Linked DNA regions of Homo sapiens. The protein of the gene in region 4 interacts with the protein of the main gene of each other region in a pairwise test. Each region holds a gene or a part of one and is shown on either strand. Other genes may lie near its edges. The genes, in order: MTF2, GLYAT, MAP7D1, VOPP1, SMPD3, OFD1 and STMN2.

The links.
Region 1: the proteins of VOPP1 (region 4) and MTF2 interact in a two-hybrid assay, tested with the Homo sapiens proteins (one large-scale study listed by IntAct).
Region 2: the proteins of VOPP1 (region 4) and GLYAT interact in a two-hybrid assay, tested with the Homo sapiens proteins (one large-scale study listed by IntAct).
Region 3: the proteins of VOPP1 (region 4) and MAP7D1 interact in a two-hybrid assay, tested with the Homo sapiens proteins (one large-scale study listed by IntAct).
Region 5: the proteins of VOPP1 (region 4) and SMPD3 interact in a two-hybrid assay, tested with the Homo sapiens proteins (one large-scale study listed by IntAct).
Region 6: the proteins of VOPP1 (region 4) and OFD1 interact in a two-hybrid assay, tested with the Homo sapiens proteins (one large-scale study listed by IntAct).
Region 7: the proteins of VOPP1 (region 4) and STMN2 interact in a two-hybrid assay, tested with the Homo sapiens proteins (one large-scale study listed by IntAct).

What each region holds. Positions count from the first base shown.
Region 1 is NC_000001.11:93,131,283-93,134,782, forward strand, and holds part of MTF2 (metal-response element-binding transcription factor 2), read left to right. Parts: intron 1-2,420; coding exon 2,421-2,526; intron 2,527-2,645; coding exon 2,646-2,698; intron 2,699-2,808; coding exon 2,809-2,913; intron 2,914-3,500. UniProt on the Homo sapiens protein: Polycomb group (PcG) protein that specifically binds histone H3 trimethylated at 'Lys-36' (H3K36me3) and recruits the PRC2 complex, thus enhancing PRC2 H3K27me3 methylation activity.
Region 2 is NC_000011.10:58,708,257-58,711,600, forward strand, and holds the end of GLYAT (glycine N-acyltransferase), read right to left. Parts: intron 2,506-3,344; coding exon 2,334-2,505; coding exon of another isoform or gene 2,330-2,333; exon of another isoform or gene 1,913-2,329; coding exon 1,510-1,912; 3' UTR 501-1,509; downstream 1-500. UniProt on the Homo sapiens protein: Mitochondrial acyltransferase which transfers an acyl group to the N-terminus of glycine and glutamine, although much less efficiently.
Region 3 is NC_000001.11:36,162,660-36,166,159, reverse strand, and holds part of MAP7D1 (MAP7 domain-containing protein 1), read right to left. Parts: intron 1-3,500. UniProt on the Homo sapiens protein: Microtubule-stabilizing protein involved in the control of cell motility and neurite outgrowth. Facilitate microtubule stabilization through the maintenance of acetylated stable microtubules.
Region 4 is NC_000007.14:55,471,503-55,475,002, forward strand, and holds part of VOPP1 (WW domain binding protein VOPP1 isoform 1 precursor), read right to left. Parts: intron 1,544-3,500; coding exon 1,353-1,543; coding exon of another isoform or gene 1,252-1,352; 3' UTR 1-1,251. UniProt on the Homo sapiens protein: Increases the transcriptional activity of NFKB1 by facilitating its nuclear translocation, DNA-binding and associated apoptotic response, when overexpressed. May sequester WWOX in lysosomal vesicles and thereby regulate WWOX role as tumor suppressor.
Region 5 is NC_000016.10:68,368,509-68,372,008, forward strand, and holds part of SMPD3 (sphingomyelin phosphodiesterase 3), read right to left. Parts: coding exon 2,351-3,500; intron 1-2,350. UniProt on the Homo sapiens protein: Catalyzes the hydrolysis of sphingomyelin to form ceramide and phosphocholine. Ceramide mediates numerous cellular functions, such as apoptosis and growth arrest, and is capable of regulating these 2 cellular events independently.
Region 6 is NC_000023.11:13,733,527-13,737,547, forward strand, and holds the start of OFD1 (centriole and centriolar satellite protein OFD1), read left to right. Parts: upstream 1-1,221; 5' UTR 1,222-1,545; coding exon 1,546-1,557; intron 1,558-1,721; coding exon 1,722-1,820; intron 1,821-2,951; coding exon 2,952-3,152; intron 3,153-4,021. Other genes in the region: TRAPPC2 (trafficking protein particle complex subunit 2), read right to left, coding at 524-606. UniProt on the Homo sapiens protein: Component of the centrioles controlling mother and daughter centrioles length. Recruits to the centriole IFT88 and centriole distal appendage-specific proteins including CEP164. Involved in the biogenesis of the cilium, a centriole-associated function.
Region 7 is NC_000008.11:79,652,617-79,656,116, reverse strand, and holds part of STMN2 (stathmin-2), read right to left. Parts: intron 1,247-3,500; coding exon 1,055-1,246; intron 1-1,054. UniProt on the Homo sapiens protein: Regulator of microtubule stability. When phosphorylated by MAPK8, stabilizes microtubules and consequently controls neurite length in cortical neurons.

The DNA.
Region 1 (3,500 bases), on a different chromosome or scaffold from region 4:
GTATATTAAAGTGTATTGAATGCTAGTGAGAGGTAGATTAAAATGAAAGAAAAATATTTATTGCATAAGGTATCATTTTGTTATTAGTGACCTTGATAAAAGGAATTTCTTTGAAGTGGTACAGATAGAAACCAGATAGGACTGGGTGAAAGTATGACTGAACCCAGCATTGCCAAATTTACGTGTCAAACTGGGCTTCTCCTGCGTATCAGGGACACAGGCAGATTCAAAATAATAACAGTAGTAAAGGAAAGGAGGAAAATAGGAAACTATCTTTAAGGATCCTGAATGAGAGGGGAGAAAATGGAAAGGGTATATGTCATCAACACCTAGAAGCTTTCCTATGTAGGGAGGCCGACAAATGGAATGGCAGCTGAAGAGGGGGATAGGACTAGTCAAATGATGGTTTTTTAAAATAGATGGGAGATAGTTGGAACCTGTTTTTGTGTGTAAGTAGGAATGATCCAGTGGAGAAGAGGAAATTGGTATAGGAGAGTAGAAGCCAAAAGAGAAGGGATGTAGAGCCTGAATGTGGGACTGGCCTTTTCTAGAAGGAGAAGCATCCTTCTGTTGAAATGGGGTGAAAGAGAAGATGGGTACAGATGCCAGTTCTGTTGTAGATTGGGCAGTTGGAAATTGACCGAAGTTCTTGCCTGGTAGCCTCCATTTTCTCGATGAAATATAAGGTAAAGATAGCTGAGAGACTTGTACAGAGAGGGGAATTTAAGGGTCAATTAAGGGTATGGAATAGTCATCTTGGAGATAAGGAAATTGACTGAAGTTCTTGCCTGGTAGCCTCCATTTTCTCGATGAAATATAAGGTAAAGATAGCTGAGAGGCTTGTACAGAGAGGGGAATTTAAGGGTCAGTTAAAGGTATGGAATAGTCATCTTGGAGATAAGGAAAATGTCATTACAAAGCCTTGACAATGAGTCCAGTTATATGAAGTTTGTAAGAAATTAGCTACTAATTAAGTTTTCTTTGAATGAAGGAAAGAATGCTTATTCTATCACTTTCAGATTTTGTCACTCAGATCCTTTGCTAGCAGTTGCCCATATTATGAATCAGAAAAAAAAATTCCACAAGCTTTTTCATTTCTATCATGATTGTGATAGGATATTCCCTTTGTGGTAGCTATCAGGTCATCTGATGCCACCAGATAAGGATTCAGCTGCTTTCTTTAAAGGCATCCTCAGTTCCTTCTGGACCTTGTGTATAAGTTGTTCCTTTTAGTTTGAGATTACTTTCTTTAGTCCAGGAGTCCTTTATAAATATTATGTTGATCATTTTACAAAAGAAATGGATATCCCATCCATCTTATTCTTGAGACTTTTGATTATAGCGTCTGGTTCTACTTTGTCCTTCTAGTTCCCCTACTTTCTCCTTCCTCATACTTCCACCTTTATTCCCTGACCTTTTTTGGCATCTGGAGGGATAAGTTTTTTTCCTACTTTCTCCATTCATCTCTTTCTAGGCTATTGTATAGTGTTCTTTTTTCTCTCCTTAATTGAAGTCTCCTGGACAATTTCCTCATAGCCCTCACTCCATTTTATTAGCTTGGCTTGTATACACATTTGTCACTTTCTAACTATATTGTGAACTCTTTAGCACAGGGAACACCTTTGTATCCATATTATCTAATATCATCTTTATATGGTAGCTATTGCTGAGTAAATGAAATAGATATTCTTTCTATATATATATTTTCTTTTTTTCTATAATTAGTGTCTTTGCCTATTGCACTTTTTTCCTTCCTATTGCTTGGTATTTGGCTTTATGTTTAAAAAATGGTTTTCTAGGTCTTTCTGATTTTTCCTTTTGAATGACTCCCTGAGAATATGAAGGATTTCTTACTCCTTTCTCCTTTACATTCTGCCACTCTGGGCTTCATTCTCTTTCTGATAGTGTCATTCAAGAATCTACATATATATCTAAAGGCAGCCTTTATGACTACTACAATGTTAACATAGATATTTCCTGACTCCATGAAGTTAACTGCTAAATTCATAGTCATTTTTAGTAGTAAATCCTTGAAACATCCTCCAAGTTGTAACCACCTAAAATTAAACTATATAATTGAGCTTTTAGGAGTTTTGAAATCTTCCATCCAGTATAATTGTCTGGTTTTTGTTGTTGTTTTTAAATCTTTAAGTGGTATATATTGTTCAGAATTATATTAAAGAGGACTTTCTTTAAACCTTTCATAATGTAAATATCTTTAAAGTCAAGAAATATTTATTTGGATTAGAATATATTATCTGTGCACTTGACTAAACTTGTGGATTCAACTAATATTTACTTTTTATTACCATTAATATAAAATAATAAAATATATGTATATGTGTCTAGTTACATACATAGAGTCAATGTCTTTGTTTTCTTTATGCAGAGATTAAATGCATAATGGTTTTCCATTTCAGGGAAGTAAGCAATGGCATAGAAAAAAAAGGAAAGAAAAAATCTGTAGGTCGTCCACCTGGCCCATATACAAGAAAAATGATTCAAAAAACTGCTGAGCCACTTTTGGTAAGAGGATATGTTGGTATATGTTCTCAAGAAGAAGGATGCATGAAATAACTGAGAAGCTAGTATTTTTTTCAGCTTACTTTAGAGACATGCTTTAAGTATATATTTTTATTTTCCAGGATAAGGAATCAATTTCAGAGAATCCTACTTTGGATTTACCTTGTTCTATAGGGTAAATAGAAAGTTATTTTCTCCCTTTCTAGGTTTTGTCTTTTGAGTAGATATTAATATTTGTTTGTTATATAATATAGTCGTTACACAATTTAAATTCTTTTGTCTCAGGAGAACTGAGGGAACTGCACATTCATCCAATACCTCAGATGTGGATTTCACGGGTGCTTCCAGTGCAAAAGAAACTACCTCGTCTAGCATTTCCAGGCATTATGGGTAGATATTTTACATTCTTATTTTTTTTACTTTTTTTACTCTAGATTTCTTTTCTTTGTAAAGTGTTGATTGAATAATTTTTTAGCAATTGAAAGTGATGTAAGTTGTGTCTATCAGCTTTTTGAGAGGTAATCCATATGTAGATCCCAATAGTTGTTAATATTCATTTGAAATATTTTTGCTTTCTAGAGTACAAATGTATTTTTCATGTTTGTGTGGAAATTTGCTGTGTACACAGAGAAAAAGTATACCATTGTTTAGAAGCTGTGCTCGTTAGGCTTTTTAATGCCTCTGCTACACAAGTGTTCTTTGCTTTAGGAAGATATGATTTTTTTTTTTCTTTTTAAGAGACAGATTCTCACTCTGTTGCCCAGGCTAGAGTGCGGTGGCACAATCATGGCTCATTGCAGCCTCAAACTCCTGGCTTCAAACAATCCTCCCATGTCGGCCTCTCTAGTGGCTGGGACTACAGATTGTGCCACCACACCTAAGTAATGCTTTTTTATTTTTTGTAGAGATGGTTTTGCTAATTTGCCCAGGCTGGTCTTGAACTCCCGATCTCAAGTGATCCTCCTGTGTTGGCCTTC
Region 2 (3,344 bases), on a different chromosome or scaffold from region 4:
TGCACTCCAGACTGGGTGACAGCACGAAACTCTGTCTCAAAAAAAGAAAAAAAAAATAGAAAGCTGTCCTAACCTGTTGCAACCTGAAAGATTATCTCTCTTGTTCCCCCTCAACTGACTCTTGTTTGAGACAATTATCTAAACTTTTAATAGAGTTCAGGCATTCTGAAGTAATGCTATAATTGGAATGTTTGTGTTTCCTCCAAAATTCATGTTGAAACTTAATCCTCAATGTAACAGTATTAAGAGATAGTCTTTAAGAGATAATTAGGCCACAAGAACGTCCACCCTTATGGATGGGATTTGTGCCTGAAGGAAAAAGGACTGGAGGAAATTAGCTGGGCTCCTTTTTGCTCTTCTGTCTTTCTGCCATGTGAGGACACAGTGTTCATCCCCTACAAATAACACAGCAATAATGCACCACCTTGGAAGCAGGGACTGGATTCTCACAGACACCAAATCTGCTGGCACCATGATTTTAGACTTCCAGCCTCCAGAACTGTGATAAATAAATTTTTAATTATTTTATTATTATTTTAAATAAACAAATAAGTTCAGACTGTTATTTATGAATTACCCAGTCTCAGGTATTTTGTTACAGCAGGAACAAACTGAGATTAGTAATGTGCTGAGGCTAATTGGACAAGCAGGTGTTCATGCTGTCTCCTCTCCCTTCAACTCCTATCTCTCCTCAATAAACCATCACATCCCTGGGTCAAGGTGCTCCCACCTTCACCTTTTCATACACTCATTCCTTTCATGCTGTCACCATGATGAACCACTTAGCTTGAACAAACACAATAAAAATTGTATACAGTCAAACACAAAACTTTCTGTATTATTTAGGAGTTGTGGGTTTTGGAAGCTCATCTTTAGAAAAAACATTGGATCTTTTTTCCTGGAATAGGAGCTTGGAGAGGATAGGATATCATCAGTTGATATTTCTTCTAGTAACATTCCCTGCTATATCATGTATACTGTATTTAGCCTAATATCCCATATATATTTGTGTCCAGTATATTTAATGTACCTATAAAGTAGCAATAACAGGAGAGGATAATCTCTAAAGACCTGCTGAGGAGAGTCCACTTGTTGATCATAAGGGAAAGGCTTTAGAAAGAAAGAAGTCATAGTGCTCAGAAAATTTAATTCACCTCTTCCTAGCTCCCAGAAAAACTGGCAAGGGTCTTGCAACTGAGGAACCAGGGATTCCAGGAGAAGTAATTTGGAGCAATATGTATCTGATGAAGTGTCATAGAGGTCCTGGAAATGTGGGGAGGTAAATTGCTTATGTCAAATGTAAGAGGACCTGGGCCTGCTTCCCACTGAGAAACCTGTGAATGCAGGGACCATGGCGATGCTGTTGAACATCACACTGCTTCCCCAGAGTCCAAACAGTGCCCACTCCTTTACTGCTGATTACAATTTATTATTTCTTTTCATCCACCATCCACTCCTCAAATTATACGCCCAGACCTGCCCAACACTGTCTTATGTTCAGGATTGGCATCACAGAGGTACACAGTTCCACTGGTTCCAGCTTCTGGGAATGGGAACATGTTGCAGTGTGTAACTCATTTTTTGCATAGCTTCATTGCTGTAGTCTACATGAGAATAGACAGGAAACCCAAGTTTGCCCAATTTCTGGGCGTGGGAATAGATGACATACGTCACAAGGCCATGGAGCCGGTATTCCGGCAAGGTGCCTGCCATTCTCATCTCTCCAGTCTGGTCCATTAGATCCCAGCACACAGGGGTCCCCTCAGGCCCCAGGAGACAGCAGGTGGGAAAGGTCTGAATGCAGCGCTCAATGAATCTCTGGCTCCTCTCATTACCACCAAAATGCCAGAATTTATTCACCAAGTGAGCATGGGTAACATCCATGGATGAGAGTTTAAACATCTCTTGGTTGCTATGGAGGGTCCAAGAAGAAAACAAAATCCATTAGTATAAAGGTTTGTATTTGCTGTGACCTCTATTGTCTTGAGAGACAGAGTAGACAGAAGAAATAACAAATGTGAAGTCCTGGAATATAGATGAGCTTGTGATGAAAGAGGAACAGAGTGAAGGTCAGAGCTGTTGGAGGAAGAAAGCAGGAAGGGCAATAAAGGTCCAAGTGGTAGCCAGAGGCCTGGTTTATTCTAGATGAGAAGGGAGATGGTGGAGTCTTTTAAGCAGGAGAGAAACATGTTCTGAGTTACATTTTTTAAAAATGTAATTCTGATTTCTTTGTACAACATTGATTGTAGGAAAGCCAGAGTGAATGCAGGGAGAGAAGTTGGGAGGTTACTTGAGAGGTGTGAGTGGTATAGACTGGATTTTATCAAACTCACATGGCCTTGGGTTTGCCACCATTGGGAGATAAAATCTTTGATTTCAGCAGGAAAGGAGTCAGTTCCTTGGCTGTTTCAGCTGCCATATAGAGAATGCGTTGTGTTTGTTTGACTTTGAAGGACTTAATGGCTGCAAGATTTTGTATAGCCTCATTCAGGCTAGGCTGTGAACCTAGACGGTATAATAAACAGAGATGAAATGGTTTAGGTATATTCTAGACTGAAGTTCTGCAGTGGAGTAAGAAGTGTCTGGGATTTAGTATCATAAAATCTTGGTTCTGGGCTTGGTGCTACCACTGTGTGACCCATGTCAATAGTAATTTAAAAAGTGAAGATTCCTCTTCAAAAAGACTTCCCTCCCCATCTAATTAAGAATCAATAGTAACTTCCTCTAGAAGCAAAATTTATTCAAAGACCTGTGCTAGCATTCTTAGATAACTGCTAGAAGATAATAAAGAAATCAATGTACTTTGTGTTCTTAGCTCCCACAGTTTAGCCTAAATATTTACCCTGGCATACTTATACTGGTCCAAGCAAGCATTAGGCCATAGCCTGTTCCTCTTCCTTACTTGGAGATGTTTTACCTTTCTCAGCATTCCACAAGTTACTTGCCCCTTCCTTTGTTCTCCTCTGCCTTTATCTCTTTTAAAAGGTTTTAAGTTGCTAGCCAGTTGGGACAAATGCAGAATGTGAGGCCCTGTTCCAGCCAATGGAAACCAGACACAACAGTAGGGTGGACATGTCAGGTTATACATAACCCTGTCTCCTCTGTTCAGTTCTCATGGCAAAATTGCTGGTGAGTGTACCCTTTCTGCAGAAAGTAAAAATGGCCTTACTGAGGAAATTAAATTTATGTTCAAGTGCTATTTCTTTACAGCACTGGGGAAGAAGCATTTCAAACAGTAAGGATTTGTGTAATTTTTTCTGTTTTACCTAAGCAAAAACATGCTTAGGGATGGATTCAGTTATGATTGTGTTATTAACAGCAGTATCTGCACTGGAACCAAGTTT
Region 3 (3,500 bases), on a different chromosome or scaffold from region 4:
CTGTTTCTCTGCCTTGAATTCTCTGCCCCCAGATTCTGCGTGCCTCGTTCCCTCCCCTCCTTCAGGTCTTTATTTTGATGTCACTTTTAAATGGAGCCTTCCCTTAGCCCCTATTTAAAACTACAAACTGGGCTGGGAGCGGTGGCTCACGCCTGTAATCCCAGCACCTTGGGAGGCCAAGGCAGGTGGATCACCTGAGGTCAGGAGTTCGAGACCAGCCTGGCCACAATGGCGAAATCCCGTCTACTAAAAAACACAAAAATTAGCTGGGTGTGGTAGCATGTGCCTGTAATCCCAGCTACTCGGGAGGCTGAGGCTGGTGAATCACTTGAACCCAGGAGGCAGAGGATGCGGTGAGCCAAGATCGTGCCACTGCACTCCAGCCTGGATGACAGAGTGAGACTCCGTCTCCAAAAAAAAAAAAAAAAAAGCTACAAACTGCAGGCGTGGTGCGGTGGCTTATGCCTGTAATCCCAACACTTTGGGAGACCCAGACAGGAGGATCCCTTAAGGCCAGGAGTTTGAGATCAGCCTGGACAACATAGTGAGATTCCATCTCTAAAAAAATTTTTTTAAATTACCCAGGCATCATGACATGCTGAAATAGAGACTGAGGTTACAGTGAACTATGAGCATGCTGCTGTACTCCAGCCTGGGTGACAAAGCAAAACCCTGTCTCTAAAAAAAAAAAAAAAGAAAAAGAAAAAAAAGAAAAATTTTAAATAAAATTAAATAAAGGCCAGGCAAGGTGGCTCACACCTGTAATCCCAGCAATTTGGGAGACTGAGGTGGGAGGATCACTTGAGGCCAGGAGCTTGAGAACAGCCTGGGCAACACAGCCAGACCCTATCTCAACTAAAAAATAAAAAACAGCTGGGCATGGTGGTGCACACCTGTAGTCTCAGCTAGTTAGGATGCTAAGGCAGGAGGATACCTTGAGCCCAGGAGTTTGAGGCTACAGTGAGCGATGATTATACCACTGTATACCAGCTTGGGCAACAGAGTAAGATGCTGTCTCAGAAAAAGAAAAAAAATTAAATAAAACTACAAACTGCAGTTGAAGTCTCCCTCCCAGTTCCAACTAGATTTTTCTTTCCAAGTCTTCTTTTTCTCCATAGGCATTAACACCATTTTAAGTCTCCCACTGCTAGAATATAATCTCTATGAGGGCACAAATTTTTGCCTATTTTGTTAGCTGGTCTATCTCTAGGGCCAACAGAGCCTGGCACATAGGTGCTCCATAACTATTTGTTGAATGAAGAAATGAATGAACTACACCCAGGCAGATATCATCATCACCATCATCGCTCTCACCTGGATGACTACAAAGTCCTCTCACTGCTCGCCTGTACCCATTCCCACTCTCTGCTCCACTGAGCAGCCAGAGCAAATGCAAATCTGATCACGGTGCTCTTTGCCACTTGAAACTTGTCAGTGGCTTCCCCTTCTTGAACTCACCCTACTAGTCCAGTATAATAGTATAATCTGAAGTTCCTGACTCCCTCCCCCTACTTCTTGGATCTCCTCTCCTACCCTGCTCCCCGCTTGCTCTCTGAACTCCAGCCACACTGACCTTCCTTTAATGCTGATGACCATCCACACTCCCTCCTGCCACAGGGCCTTTGCACATACTCTCTTTTCTTAGCTAACTCCTATTTGCCCTACATATGTTAGTTCAGTCATCACTTCCTCATGGAAGCCTTCCTTGGCTTCTCTGATTAGGATAAATTCCCTTGTTGTATATAGTCATGGTTTCATGTGCCTTTGGAACACTGTCACTGTTATGATTTTAAACTTCCTTGCATGGTTCTTTCCTTATTGTCAGCCTCCTCCTAGAAGGTGAGGGAGCCCCACAAGAGCTGGCCATGTCTACTTTGCTCACTGCTGCATCACCAGCAGCTACCACAGTGCCAAGTATACGGAGATAGTCATAAAATATTTGAATAAACAGTATAACACAAATAAAGTGCTATACTATGAGGCTGCCCTAGCCTAAAGCATATAGAAGATTTTTACTCTAATAAAGAGTAGATCTAGGCTGGGCGCAGTGGCTCACGCCTGTAATCCCAGCACTTTGGGAGGCCAAGGAGAGCAGATCGTTTGAGCCCAGGAGTTCGGGAGCAGCCTGGGCAAATGGCAAAACCCCATGTCTACTAAAACTACAAAAATTAGCTGGGCGTGGTTGTGCACACCTGTAGTCCCAGCTACTTGGGAGGCTGAGAGAAGAATCCCTTGAACCCAGAGGTGGAAGCTGCAGTGATCTGAGACTGCACTACTGCACTCCAGCCTGGGCGACAGAATCAGATGCTGTCTCCAAAAAAAAAAAAAAAAAAAAAAAAAAAGAAAAAAAGTATATATCTATGTGGCAACTTATAGCAAAAAGATAAACATTTGAAGAGAAGCAAAACAACTCCATCTCAATAGTGTTTGGGCAGCTTCCTGGACTAAGCCACACAGGTAGAAGTTAATAAAAATAATAATGAGTGTTTACTCCAGCAGCTCAACAAGAAAAACTTCTCAAGAGGCAAACAAGAAGTTTGGAACTCCTCTTGTGACCTGGCACACTATTGACCCTGAATACAAATATTTTCTTCACAATTATGCCAACCCTGATGAAATGTCATTGGCACAGTGTTATGGAGCAAATCACATTAAGCCAAAACTCCTTGGTTAGTTATCTATACAGTATGGTTAATCTATTTATGATCATTCTCATTTTTAACCATCAAATATGATCCTTCGGCTACTTAATTTTATCTTATTTTTGGTCTATGCCAGATTGTGAGGTTTTGCCACTGTTGGTTTTATTTTGCTACACTAATATCTACCAGAAGTATTTGTTAAGAATGAGATAAGAGACAAATAATTTGTATTTATTTCTTGGCACAAAGAGCATTAGCAGGGCAAAAGTGCAGTGGTGGGTTGCATTGTGGGGTCAAAAAGTCCTGTCTTCCTAAGAGCTCCAAGAGGGGCTGTGCCTGGGGTCTGCAGAAAGATCAGGGCCAAGTCCCTCAGAGAGACTGTCACATGTCTCAGAATACTAACACCCCATCTCCACCCTCTGAGAGCTGGCAGTCCTTTCCTTTTGTCTCTCCCTCCTCCCACCCCAACAACTCTTGTTGGGCCAAATATTCCTCTCACAACACTGATAACTCAGTCTAGCTTTTCTGTTTGCCTGCCACCCCCTGCCCTTGTCAGTGTGAGAGCTTATCAAGAGAAGAAACTCAGTCTTAGTCCTTTTTGCAGCCCCAGAGTCTTATACAGGACCTGCCTGGCACAGAGTGGGAGTTCTGTGTCTGTTTAATGAATGTCCGATGGGTGGGTGGGTGGCTGGGTATGTAGATATGTGGGTGGGGGTACTGTAGAAAGCTACCTAGCTAGTGTGTATTTAGACCCTCAAGCTGCTCCAAAGCTTAGTCTCTCTAAACACTAAATGTCATGTTCATCTCAGAACCTGCATGTCCCCAGCCAGTTTCCAGGCCCAAACTAATTTACTGAAG
Region 4 (3,500 bases):
TTCCCCGTGATACAGCACATCTAGTAATCTAGGCGCCTCAGCTAAGCTGCATAGCTCTTAGCACACAGGACAGGTCAGCGTTCACACATCAACACTATAACTATGCGGCGGAACTAGCTCCCCGCTAGCCGTCAACTACTCAGGAGACTACCTGTGAGATCCTGGGGTGAGCTGTGATTCCTATCCAGGAATGTGCATTTCCGACCACTTCTTCTTTATTCTAATTATGACAACATGGTCAGTGCAGTTGAGTCAGTACTTCTCCTGTCTTTTCCCAGCAAGCTCCTCCTCCTTGGAGCCCAGCACACACCCGCTTAGACCCAACACAACCTCAGAGAGAGACGCCTCAGCTGGTCTCTCTCCCTGGAAGAGTCCATGTGACTTCCCAGCCAGATGTGCCCCGTTTTGAAAGCACCCTTCAGAACCCACCACTGGAGCTGCCTGAGGGAAGGAGACCCCCGGGCCTGAGAATGCCCTGGAGAGGCAGTGATGTCCAGGGAAGACACACACCCAGTCTGATTTCAAAGGGCAGGACGCTCTACATGCACTTCCATAAACACACCAAAAAAATGGGTAACAGTCCTTTCTCCAAATCAGACCAAGAGCTCACAAAATGCAATGTCTCAGTTTGGGGCAGGAAGTGATTTCCCATGAATTTAAATAAATTTGCTTAGTGGATGTCAGATCACTGTCAGGCCTCCAAGGCAAGCCTGATTCTAGGCCCCATCCTGCGGTGAGAGCTGCACGTGCTACCCTTCCCTGGCGGTGCAGGAGAAGTCTATCTTTAGGATATGAACAGAGACAGAAACATGACAAGGGGCTTGCTCTCTCCTGAATGTCTCTCCAACAGCTTCTGGAAGAGGAAGGCTGACGAGAGGACAGGCTGGAGCAGATGACCTGCTGGGCTCAGCTCAGTCGGCTGCTGCTTCATCGGCTGAGCCGCCCGGCATGGGGCTTCCTATTAATACCCGGGCAGAAGGATGCTTGCCTGGGATGCTCGGCCTGGCCCCTCTACATGCCACCTGCACCTCCAGCACTGCCTTCTTCCTCTCAGTCTCTCTCCTGTAGATCTGGTCACGCCACCGTAAGGACGTCAGCCCTCGGGGACTGTCACCACACTACCATGTGAGAGCACAGACTGCGTCAGAAACAGAAGCAACAGAGGAGACAAAGTGTGAGTTCATATATTGTACTCCATGGAAAGCCTGAAAGAGAGCTGTGCTTGCTGTGAGGATATCAGAGGAACTGCCCTTAGCAGCCCACGAGACCGTTCCTGGAAGTGAACATCAACGAAGACAGAAAGGCCAGGGAAAGGCCCTCTCCTGTCTCTCCTCTTGCACGTGGGCACCCCACTACTTGGCCTTCACTACCTGTTCGTACGGGGGCGGAGGCGTGTTGCAGTAGGCTGGAGGGGGCGGGCAGGCCACACTCCCCTGGGGTGAGTTGGGTGGGACCTGGAAAGCCATTGCCATGGAATTCCCGACAGGGTTCATCCCCGGTCCTCCTGGGTCGGTGTAATAGGGCGGCCCCGGCTGCTGGGCTCCTGAAAGACAGACAAACATAGGTGAGCACAGAAGGGAAAGCCCCATCACACCGCAAGTATGTGCAGGCTGCAGGGCCAGCAGACCACGCCCCGTCATTCACTCAGCGACAGTGTATGAAGGACCCAACATGCCCGGTGAGGGGGCACCTGGGCTGTGGTGACAAGCAACACAATAGGCAGGTCCCTGCCCTCTCGGGGCTTTGATTCTACTGGACTACATTCCACGTTACCAGTTCACACATTAGGGTGGAGGAAACTGGGCCACAGTAAGGTGAGGCTGTCTGCGGTGAACTATCGGAAGAGCTGCAAAGACCACCCAGGCTTCGCGACTCAGCCTGGCATTATCGCAGGAGCTCCACAACCCCTCTGGGCACGCCATTGGCTGGTGACCATTTCTGAAGTAAGGTCTCCATTCTCCCTGCCGGGCTAGTGTGCCCTCAGGGCAGGAGTTACTCACAGGCAGGGAGGCCGTGCACCTGGGCACACATAGCCAGGCTGCAGCTGATTGACGCTCCATGGGTCAGGAGCGGAGCCGCAGGCTGACTCCCTAGTGACAAGCTGAGGAGCAGGGCACGGGGGCACCACAGAAGGTGACAGGAGGGTACAGGCTGGACACCCGACCCCAAATCTAGCCCTCACTCTGAGGTGCTGTTTTCAGTGTGCTTACTGTGATCATGCAGATTAACACTATAGAATTATGCATATGTAAATAAAGAATCAGACAAAACCGTGAAAGTGCTGGGTGTTCCCTGGGTATAGCTGATTTTGTGACAGGACTCAGGTGTTTTTGAAGTGAGGCTTCCTTTAGCTCAGGGAGACACTCAAGTGTCAAAGAAGCTGCCCCTGTGTGAATATTGTGTAGGGTTTTTTTTCTTTTTTTGCAATTCTCCCCCTGACACAGTGTGATATAGTTCTGACTCTAGAAACATGCCCATCAAGGTACACAAGATGTCCCAAAGCCCACATAAGTCAGACCATGGGAATCTGCGCATGTGCGGAAGGAGAGCATGTAGAACAGAAGCACAGGCCAGGCCTGCACTGTCTCTCACTGAGCGCTCTCAACTGCCAGGAGGGCACTCAGCACAGATGCCACCCTGTGTGAGAGGCTGCCTCGCCCTGCATCTGTGCCGTCCCACAGACACCACCTGAGTGAGATGCCGTGTGGTCCCACAGATGCCACCTGCGCTGCTCTGATGCATCTCACCCGCTGCCTTGGGTGTGTTCTATTTAGAAGTCGACTTACTGCCATTACCATGAGTTTCGCAAGGGCAGAGATTATGTTTTATTTAGATCTGGATCCTGCTATATGTTATACAATTAAAAAACCAAGGATTTTTAAAAAGAGGGCATTGCAACAGTCTAAGCAAGACATTATGAAGGCTTCTGAATATTAGAGAAAAAATGGAGAAGAGAGAATGAGGCACTGAGGGCTGTCGGCAATGACTGGCCTGGGATTGACTCGATGGGGAGCGCACAGCGTGGGAGACAAGGGCTGAGAAGAAAAGGCCCTAGGTTCTGCTCACAATAAGGGCCCCCCAACAGGCAGGGCAATACAGGAGAACAGGGGCTCTGCAAGAATTAGCGCCTTACCAAGGTCACACTACTGCTACAGCAGCACCAGGACAAGGGCGGGGCAGATGAAAAAGTCCCTGCTGGACTGGAGAGGGCGGAGGCAGCTCTGGAGCTGGAGCCTCCTGTGGGAAGGTGGTGGTGGAAACATGGGCATGTCCAGGAGAAGGCTGCAGGAAGGAGCAGCACTGAGGCCAGGAGAGGAGCATGAAGTGTCTAAGGCTGATGAGAAGGATGCATAGGCAATGGGAAGATGCGGCAGGAGGTGGTGCACCAGGAGCCAGGGCAGCAAGGGGTGGGAGAATTTTCAGGAAGAAGTGATGTTCTCTCCCCAGCTGAAGAGAGATGGAAATAAGCACGGCTGTAGCCTTGGGGTTCCCGTGCTCTT
Region 5 (3,500 bases), on a different chromosome or scaffold from region 4:
GGGCCATCTGGAAAGTGAGCTAGGGGCCTGGAATGGATGGGTCGGGCACAGGACAGAGCAGCCAAGGTGGTCCTTCTGGCTTCAGGATGGCAGAACACAGAAGAGGAGCAGCCCGGGGCAGAGGCTGAGTCTGGTTTGCGAGTGAATGGGGATGTGTCCTGGAGGCAGCCAGATGTAGGGCTGGGGGGAGAGGTCTGGGCCAGGACAAAGCAGAGGGGCCTCAGAAAGGGCAGAAATGGAAGCTGCAGAGTCTCACTCCCAGGCAGGTGTCATGATGGTTGCTGGGAAACCCCACTGCGGGGCAGCCAACCACGGCTCCAGCTCACTGCAGCCGCGTGGGGTACGGAATGTGGCAGGCCTGGGGCTGCTGAGAGAACCTGCAAACCGGGTTTTCTGTGAAATATCTTGATTTTAACATATTGGTCAAGGCTGGGTATGGTGGCTCACGCCTGTAATTCCAGCACTTTGGGAGGCCGAGGTGGGCAGATCACCTGAGGTCGGGAGTTTGAGATCACCCTGACCAACACGGTGAAACTCCGTCTCTACTAAAAATAAAAAATTAGCCAGGCGTGGTGGTGCATGTCTGTAATCCCAGCTACTTGGGAGGCCATGGCAGGAGAATTGCTTGAACCCGGGAGGCAGAGGTTGTGGTGAGCCGAGATCGTGCCACTGCACTCCAGCCTGGACAACAAGAGTGAAACTCCGTCTCAAAAAAAAAAAAAAAAAATTGGTCAATACAAAAAATTTTTGAATGTCATAGATCAGGTTACAGTTTGAGACCCAGGAGGTAGAGGAAGATGAAAAGAACTTTCAGGACAGAACCTGGGAGGAGGGGCTGTCCCAGGCAGACACTGTTGAGCTCAGTGGGAACAGTGAGGGTGCCCCACAGAGGAGGGAGGTGGGGACAGGATGTGTGGATTGATCTGTGCAGAAGTGGGCTGGGGTAGGGGGCGGGGGAGGGCCCGGCCTCTGAGCCACCTGTAGTAGGGTGGGAGTGAGGGGTGGGAGTAAGGGGCACATCCTCCCACCCTGGACCTGGCAACACATCCCCTTCCTCCCCAGAAAGTCACTCTAGCTGTCGAGACAAAAATATATCCAGGGAACAGAACACCAACGGACCATATGCCAAAATGGGAAGGTTGGATCTATCTGTCAGGAGTTGCTTCAATTTCAGCATCCCTTGCTGTGAATGAAGAGCAGAGGACCCAAACTCTGGGCCTGGCAGAGCCACACAAGAGCCATGGACGAACCAGAAGTGGGGGCCAGGGCCCTTGCTGCCTGCCCTGGCTCCCATAGGGCTTGAAGACAAGCTCTGCCACTCATGGCAGGCGCCAGGTTGCGCACCAGTGTTTCCCTGGGCAGGCGGAGTGTGGTTGCTTCTGAAGGCGAACTGGGAAGTGAGGAAACCTGCCCTAGGCAGGCCTCTGAACCGCAGCCCTCCCTGCAAAGCCACCACTTTTTCATGTCTCACCCTAAAGGGACAGAACCCACATCTGAAACAGCTGCTGCCTCTCAGGGCAGAAAGCCCTGTGCTGCATCCACTGGCCAAATGACACTTCAGAAAACCGTGGAAGCACCATGAGCGGCTTTTGGATAGAGAACAAAAGTCGACACTCTGAGCATCTCAGGCGCAGTAGAAGATAATGTGTAATGACCAAATTACCACAGCCTAAAAACTCCTCCAATCGAATCCAAATTAGCAGAAATAATTATGATTCACTTTAATTAGTGACTATGGAAGCGAAACCATGGCTGGTGGGCAGACAGCCTGGCAGGGCAGCTGCACGACAGCCAGGAGGGAGGGGTGTCCAGGCCAGGGAAGCTAGTGGCCTCAGTGAGCCAGGCGGTGTCACGGCCTGGAGACCTGAGGGTCCCGTCTGCTTGCCTGATGCGCTTGGTCTGGGCTGGTCTCTCTGCCTCGTTATGAACCGACAGGGCCCCTACCTCCTGTTCTTCCTCACTTTATCACTGCCACCATCTCCACGGCTACCACCGCCACTCTTGCGCCAGCTCGGAACCCTTCCCAGGCCTTACTGCTCTGTTCCACTCCCACCCTCTCTCCACTTTACAGTTGGGGAAATGGTGGCTCAGAGATCTGAGGAACGGGCCCAGATCACCCAGATGGGTCTGTCTGAGCCCAGAGCCTCGGTGCTCATCCCTGCATTGGTCTTGACCCTGTCCCCGAGCCAGGGCCCTGCTGTTTGGCTCCAGGAAAGACCGCGTCTGCCTCCCACTCCAACCTCCCACTCCAGCCCCCATGACGATGAGGACTCCCCGCTGCAGCCCCCCTGCCTACATGGCTCTAGGACCAGCTGGCACGTGGTCCTCAGGCTGGGCCGAGGTCTCCTACCTTGAGAAACAGAGCTCCCTTAGAGGCCAGGGCATCGTCGTTACACTTGTTGGGGTAACAGTGATAGGCCACGTCCATGATGGGGTAGCGGCTGGCAAAGAGGAGGCCGCTGTTGAGACACTTGAAGCTGCAGCAGCCCTGGCAGCCGTAGACCCCGACGTCGTACAGGATGTACTCGAAGTAGCCGTGCAGCTGCTCTTTCAATTTGGTGGCTGCTCGCTTGTCAAACACCTCCTGCAGGCACAGGAAGTCCAGGTTGGCGGGGAAGAAGGCGGAGACCTCATGGTCGAAGGCCTCGTCGGGGTGCCGCCTCCTGCGTGCAGCCGCCTTCTTCACCACCGAGGCCTTGTACAGGAGCTTGCTGTTGGCACCTGGCTCCCCGCTGGCACTGGTGTCTGGCCCAGCTCGCCCCTTCACCAGGGACTCCCGGGAGGCCGAGGGGCTGCCCAGGCTCCCTGAATCCCCGTCCTGCTGATTATGGTTGGGCGTCTGGCCCCTTGGGCCCCCGCCAGCTCCGTTCCTGGCCTGGCCCCCAGGCACAGGGTCGTCAGCTTCAGGTGGCCGGCCGCCCTCCTCGCCACCGATGCGCACGATGCAGGCATCCTCCGGGCTGCTGCTGTCGACAGGGTCCCCAGAGGCTGGGCCGTTGGCAGCCTCGTCACCGGGGTGCCGCCCACCGTCACCCTTGTACTCCACAGAGGCTGTCCTCTTAATGCTCCCGGGGACGGCCCGGGCCACCCCATCGCCGCCCTGTGGTGACACCAGGCTGCTGAAGCTAGCGGCGCTGATGGAGGTATTGGTGGGGGAGTCGATGTAAATTTTGATCTGGGGCCGGGCGGCCCCATTGCGGATTCTCTGCCCGATCTCCTTGGCCCGCGCTTGGGTGTTAAAAAGGTTGTTGACCCTGGCGAGTGAGTCGGGCAGGAGGCAGACGTTGGCAGTGGCAAAGCAGAAGCTTTTGCCAGGCCCCGTGCCCTTCCATTCACTGAGCAGGGCTGCCCCACCGGCCAGGCCCTTGTCTTCCAGCCGTGAATAGATGTAGGGCCGGCGGGCCGACTGCAGTGGGGACCAGAAGAGAAAGCCGAGAAACGCAAAGGGCAGCGAGGCCACCAGGAGGGCCAGGTAGATGGGCGTGAAGAGGGCAGTGCAG
Region 6 (4,021 bases), on a different chromosome or scaffold from region 4:
TCTCCACCTCCTATGAAGTCCTGTCACTCTTACTGCCTCTTAAATACTTTAAGTTTTTCACAGCCAGAGATCAAAACTCATCGTACTCATCTTCAATGCTGTACACAAAGCTGACATCCAATTCTGTCCTCACAGGACTTAGATACCATATAAGGCTTATATTCCCAGCACACAACTCTGGAGTCAGGCTAGATTCCTCACTGCTCCCAAGAAGGTCGTGGCTTTTTTTTTTCTTTTAATGATTCCTTTGCTCATTTTTCCCCTTCCTGTGATGTTCTCCTTTTTGCTCACCACCCGAATCCTACCCATCAAGGCCCCGATAAAGACACACTTTTTCCACAGAGATGATCTGGATCACTTCCATCTTCAACCACCTCCCCTTTAAACTCTTTATCCAGTCTACAATGTATCTTAGTTCTTGTTCAATTCTCTGGCTGTAACATTTTCATTATCGCTTCTGAGAGGTTTGGTTCCTTTCCTTTCTAATTACATTTAAGCATCATGAGGACTGGCTCACCTTTACCTCACAGCACACAATGGTTGGTACTCTAAAACGTTTAGCTCTGTGGATCTCAACCCGGAGCGATCTTGCTTCCAAGAGGACATCTGGCAATATCTGGAGACATCTTTGGTTGTCACACTTGGGGGAGAAGGTGATACTGACAAAATAGAGAGCAAGGATACAGCTAAACCTACAATGCACAGGACAGCCTCCCAAAACAAAGAATCTTCCGGCTCCAAAAGGCAACAGTGCAGCCGTTAAGAAACCCTGGGTTAGCTGAATGACCCAGTGAACCGCGAAACCACAGCCCCCGAGAGGGCGGACGTCTGCAGGTGGAAGGGCTGCGCGGATGAGCCAGCGGAGGGCTGGCAGGTCCGGCCCGGCCACCCCGGGGAGGGGTGGAGGTACAGGACCAACATCCGCGTCACGCAGGGGCTACGAAGTCCTCCAGGGACTCAAAACACCCGCCCCCCGCCGCACTTGCTCCATTCCCTACCTGCAGTGGGAGGCCGACAACGGAAACGCAATGTCAGTTTCCGCGGAAGAGACCCGCGCCCCGAACCTGTAGCCAGAACGCCGAAGCAGTTCTCGCGATACCCTGGGATGTGCTCTCGCGATACGTAGGCGGAGCTTCCGGCCGGTGCTGGGCAACCAAGCTCATGCGCCGTAGCTCTTCAGCTCGGGAAGGCTATATTTAGCAGGTTTCCGGAAGTTGCCGGACTGGCTGTGAGGCGGTCCTGCCTCGCTGCCTTCAGTCCCTAGTGTCTGGGTCCCCGCCCTCCAGCCGCCTTTGAGTCGTGCCTGGGTCCTCGCCCTTGCCTCAGAACCGCGAAGAAAGGAAGCTCGCGTGTTTGCTAGAAAACCTAGTTGGGAGTGCGAGGCAGAGAACGTTCAGCACCTTTGTTCCTCCCGAACCCTCGGGACAGAGGCAGGGTTCTGAGGGCAGGGATTCCCCCTCGTCTTGGCCCCACCGCCCGGGCTGGGCACTAAACTCGGGCCGCGGCGGGGCGAGCGAGGCGGGCTCCGGAGGGAGCTGACGCCTGATGATGGCGCAGGTAGACACACCTGCCCCTTCTCGGGCGGAAATAAAGTCTTGTTTTGTGTTCGTTAAACTTTCGCCGCTAGGCCTCTTATGGCTTCCCCGGAGGCCACTGGTCTGTTTTCAGACGTTCACGTTCCCTCTGCCCCGCAGGTAACCTATAACCATTTTGTCTTTTAGTCCAACATGTTTACCGTGGCTGATGTGTTGAGTCAAGATGAACTGCGCAAAAAGCTATACCAGACGTTTAAGGATCGGGGTATACTGGATACACTCAAGGTATCGGATTTAGGCGTATCTGTGTCAGCTTTTACAAGTGTAACCTGTAACAGGTAGTTCAAATTCAATCAAGGTTTAGGTTTTAATAATCGTATGATACATAGATTGTATTGGTGAATTACATTTTTATATTCCCGAATAACTCTGTATCCTGAAACATTACAGTCTCTTGAAAATGTTTGAGAAAATGTTGAGTTTGAGTCGTCTTAAAGGAGCATATTCAAATAATTAATTGAACTGACAATAAGATAGGAGAAGGAAATATTTGTATAATGAACACAGTAAGATTAGGCTTGTTTTATAAATATGGCTTATAGGTTCCTAAATTAATAAGTGGGTTTGTAATACATTTGGATGAAGGACATTGACACCATATAGAAAATACTAGTGTACTGCTTAATAATAGTTTGGGAAATGAAAAATTTTATCTTTAAACTATATTGAAATGTATGAATGTTTAGTTTGGGCAGAAAATACCTATTAGTATGCTTTATATTTGGATTAACAGCCAGGAGTAGGATTAGCTCAACGTGTTTTCATTGAAATATGCATTTCAAAAGCATATTTTACGTTTAAAATATGTAGCTATATCCTGTGTATGTATCCTTTTTTAATTTAAATTATATGGTGAGCATTTCCCTGTTTCCTTAAAAGTTTTTTGAAATCTTCATTTTCAGTGGCAACAGGCTTATCTTTGGATATTTTTGTAATGTATATAGCAGTCCCCTGTTGTTGAATATTTTGGTTATATTCTCCAACAGTCCACAGAGGTGTGATGAAGTGGCAGAATTTTTTCCTATACTTAATATCCCAATCGTAAGCTGCTGAAATGGGCTTCTAGGGAAGTGAAGTTATGAGTCTGCAAGTGGATCTGGCTAACCACCCGTTTCATTTGGAAGCTGGGGAAAGAAAGCTTTTTCTAGAACCCACTGGACTGCTTGTCTCACGGGGTAAGACAAAGTGTGCAGGGGAAGGTTTCTAACTTCTGGCCATGGATCTAGAACCATTATGGAAATAGAAGGAAGGTTTCCAATGAATGTAGCTCATCTGTGTATATCTCTAATGAAACAGTCCTGCTGAAATTTCTTTCCCTTGTGTTTCTTTTTTATTTTTGTTTTTATTTTATGCTAGACACAACTTCGAAACCAGCTAATTCATGAGTTGATGCACCCTGTATTGAGTGGAGAACTGCAGCCTCGGTCCATTTCAGTAGAAGGGAGCTCCCTCTTAATAGGCGCCTCTAACTCTTTAGTGGCAGATCACTTACAAAGATGTGGCTATGAATATTCACTTTCTGTTTTCTTTCCAGAAAGTGGTTTGGCAAAAGAAAAGGTAAAGTCTTTCCTTTTCTGTTTCTGAAGTTTTTATTAACAGGTTCTTCCTCTGCTGACAGTAAAGTGCTGTATGATAGCTAAGTGCTCCTCGACTAGGTCCATTTCTGTTTCCTCTTTGAATTCACATTGTACCTGCACATAATATATTTGTTATATAACAAGTGGGTACTAAATTTGAAATTAATTTCTTGGCGTCTCATTTAGTCTCACATAAAACAGTGATGTATAGAATCTCTAAATGTTTCAGACCTATAATTGATCTATCTATCCTCTATCTTGTCTAATAAGACTCTGCCAATCTGCTGAATGTCTGCTGTAAGCTTGGCACTGTGATAGGCACACTGCAGATGTTTTGTGTGTTACGGATGAGGAACCAGACTCTGGAGAGGTGAATCAATTTGCCCAACATCAAGTAACTTTTAAGTGACAATGCAGGGTGGTAAATCTAGATCTCTAACATGAGCTCTTTTTTTCCTGCACTAGTTTCTTCAGATGTTTCTCTTTGTAATTAGATAAGTGAGAAATACGTAATTTAAAAAATCTGTAAAGTTCTCAAATATTAAAAACACTTGTTTTTTTTTTTTACTACTTTTCTAATTATTTTAACTATATTTCTTCACCATTACTGTTGAACATTAGTACTACTTTATTATTTTAAAGGCAGATACAGCAGACTTTCCCTGTGGATATGTGCGTGTTTTTTTTTTTTTAATAGACTTTATTTTTTCAGAGCAGTTTTGGGTTCACAGCAAAGTTAAGTGGGAAGTACAGAGAATTCCCATATACCTGCTGCCCCTACACACTCATAGCCTCCCCCACTGTCAACATCTTGCATCAAGGTGGTACATTTGCTACAATCTATAAGCC
Region 7 (3,500 bases), on a different chromosome or scaffold from region 4:
TCAGAGACTGAGAATGAAAACAGAATCATCAGAACTTCAGGATAAGGTTTTTTGAACCTTAGATGAGAAGGGCCATCTCTAACAGAAGACATGAAACTCTGAGAAATAGAAAACAGGAGGCTCATCTAATTAAACTCTCAGGGCTCTGATGACAGGCACACTCCTGTTTTGCTCTGCATCTCCAATGCCTATCACACAAAGGCACTTGCTACTGGCGGGAAGGGTGACTGACTGCTCAGAAAAGGATTGAGGCGTCTTTCTCAAACATCCCATTTCTCAATGCTTATTCCAATTTCTGGAAACGGACACAGCTAAACTACTCACAGCTATACTGTATATTTTCAAAGGAAAGGTTTTTTGAGGGGATAGGTGGGAGACAGCATAGAGAGTACAAAAGTGAAAGACAGCATTTTTCAGAAGAACTCCAGCACAGCTCCTCCTGACTCATGGGAATGAATATATGTTTAGGTTGTTGAAGAGAAGGGCACCAGGATACCAGAACTGGATGAAACATCCCCTATGAGCTAATCTTTGCTATGGTCCCATGTGATGCTATTATACCCTAGAATGGGCTTACCAGTGTTCATAAATACCCTGGCCTTTTCTGGCAAATATATTTTTCTAATTTAATATTTTAATTAAATATATATTTAATGTCATATATTAAACAAATATTAAATCAAATGTTATTTATACTTATATCAATATAATATATAGACATTAATATTTCCAGTGTAACATTTTTCCTACAGATTGCCTCGTGAGGCTTGTATAGAAGTCTTACACATTTCAAAAGCATGAATCAGCCTCCCTGAATCCACTCACCATGGGAAAATTTGACAAAATTCCAGCTTTCATGATGGATTCCCATTTCTCTACCATGTTGCACCTCCTGCTAACTCAATGCTACACTGTGAGACCCTGCCCATGGGAGTTAGTTGTCCTCACACCTGCAGCAAATTTTGACTTCGTCTCTGTGCTCAGGCATATGGAAGTTCACCCAGCTGTGCTGCATATGAATATATCCATCTGCTCAGGACTCTGCTGAGATTACCTTTTCCTGCAGACGTTCAATAATAGCAGCTAGATTAGCCTCACGGTTTTCCTTAATTTGTTCCATTTTCAGGATCAGCTTTTCCTCCGCCATCTTGCTGAAGTTGTTGTTCTCCTCCAAAGCCTTCTGAAGGACTTCTCGCTCGTGTTCCCTCTTCTCTGCCAATTGTTTCAGCACCTGGGCCTCCTGAGACTGGGGAAGAAAAACATAGCCATCTTATAATTATCCAAACACAAACCTAGCAGAATAACGGCCCACCAATTGGAGGGAGCATTCTTTTCAGATGAATAGTACTCCCAGCCTTGAGCACTATTGTCAAGTCTGTACTCATCTGCATGGCTTAGAGTTTTCTATAGAATGTGGCTAGTTGGGAAATGCGGTTAGCTGAATTTTCAGCTGTGAGTATATTTCGGACTGTCTTAGAAGAAGAAGCATTTAATCCTCATTGAGGAGTTACAAATTTTTTTAAAAAAAGGCTTTGTTGCTAAGCGTTTATGCAACAGAAAATGCTATAATGAATTACAGGATGGCAATATTCAACCAAAGCCTGAGGAAAACAGTTGAGGACTGAGACAAGTTCTGATCTTCTTCCTGATCCATTGTTTTTTCATCAACTGTAGGCTAGGCCCTACAATAAGCTTTTCAATTTTCATCAATCAAATAATCAAATTCACTTTCTCCTTTTATTTCACACCCCCTTCCCCCCTCCCTATCCCCCATACACCAAAGTCTCTTTGGAGATCTGAGAACAGTGCAAACTTAGTGTCCCCTTGGCCACAGAGAGCAGAAAGTCCTTGTTTTGACCCTCTCTTGAAACCCTGTGGTTGCTCAGTGATTTAGATCCAGATGTACACCCTGCCCTGCACTTTGAGCACTGTAATTTTCTTCCAGCATCAGGAGTCTGTTTGGCTCTGTACAGTGAATGGTAATCACTGGAGCACTTGATAACAATGCAGGTGCCTGGCATCTACCTCCAAAGATTCTGATTCCAAGGTTCTTTGGTGAGGCCCAGTGATAAGCATCACTAGTGACTCAAATGCAGGTAGTCCAGTCTACCTTTTGTAAGTCATACTGGCATGGGCTTTGATGTCAGGCCTGTGTTCAAGTCTTACCTCTGTTTGTGACCCAGGATGTGTTACGTAACTTCTTTCCATATTCTTTTTATTCTCCCCATTATGCAGCTGAGAAAAGTCCCACCCAATACTGACCTATTTAGGTTTAAGACTAAATTATTACACACTCATGGCTTCTGGATAATTTCTCAGGATCAGCTGATGCCCCGAGGCAATCCTTCACAGGAGTAATTATAAGTGGGAATATCTAAACAATGGTTGATCAAAAAATAATCCTAAGTGCCCTGTTAAATACTGATTACCATTGAAAGCATTAGTGGGAAAACATTTTAGTTGATGGTAGTGGTTGTGGACATTTACTGGAAAGGTCTTTTTGTATAAACAATATGGGGCCTGGAGAAAGGAGAAACTTCTCTTCAAATAAAATTCTACAGAAATGGGAAAGTCAGACAGCCTTACACATCTTTACTGATGTGTTTATTCTCAAGTTGATCAGGAATAGGTCTGTGGCTCACTGGAGATTAGACAGAAAATCCTGGGAACCAGCCCTGCCTCTTGCTTTAACCCCATAATGGTTTCAGGACATTTTACTATTTATGTGTTTATTTTTTTTTAGATAGAGTCTCGCTCTGTCACCCAGGCAGAAGTACAGTGGCGTGATCTCTGCTCACTGTAATCTCTGCCTCTGAGGTTCAAGCGATTCTCATGTCTCAGCTTCCTGAGTAGCTGAGATTACAGGTGTGTGCTACCACACCCTGCTAATTTTTGTATTTTTAGTAGAGATGGGGTTTCGTCATGTTGGCCAGGCTAGTCTTGAACTCCTGGCTTAAGTGATCCACCCGCCTCGGCCTCCCAAAGTACTGGGATTATAGGTGTGAGCCACTGTGCTTGGCTGGTTTTAGGACATTTTTAGTGGAACCAATGCTTTCTTACTTTGTATTGGTTTCAGGAAAACCAATACAAAAATAATAAGAAAATTATAACATAAATTGAGTTCAAACTCCAATGGAGCCTTTCTGGAAGAAATATGAATAAAATATTTTCTAGCTGGTTCACTCTCCTGCCTCTAGGTGGGACTGTTGGTAAAGCATCCTACACAGACTTTGCTTATTTGCTGTTATCAGGACTACGGAATTGTTACAGGGAGAGAGGTGTGTGTGTAAATATTTAAAGTTTCTCTCTCTGGGAAAAGTCTTCATGAAATTAATTTTTTTGGTAATGGATAAGAATAGTACCTATCTCATATGGTTGTCAGGATCAAACAAAATAATGTTTGCAAGGTATTTAATGCAGTGTCTAATATCAAGTAAGTTAGTACTGAATGAGTGGTAATCATTATTATCAAAAGCAAAATTTAAGACACTTGTGACAAG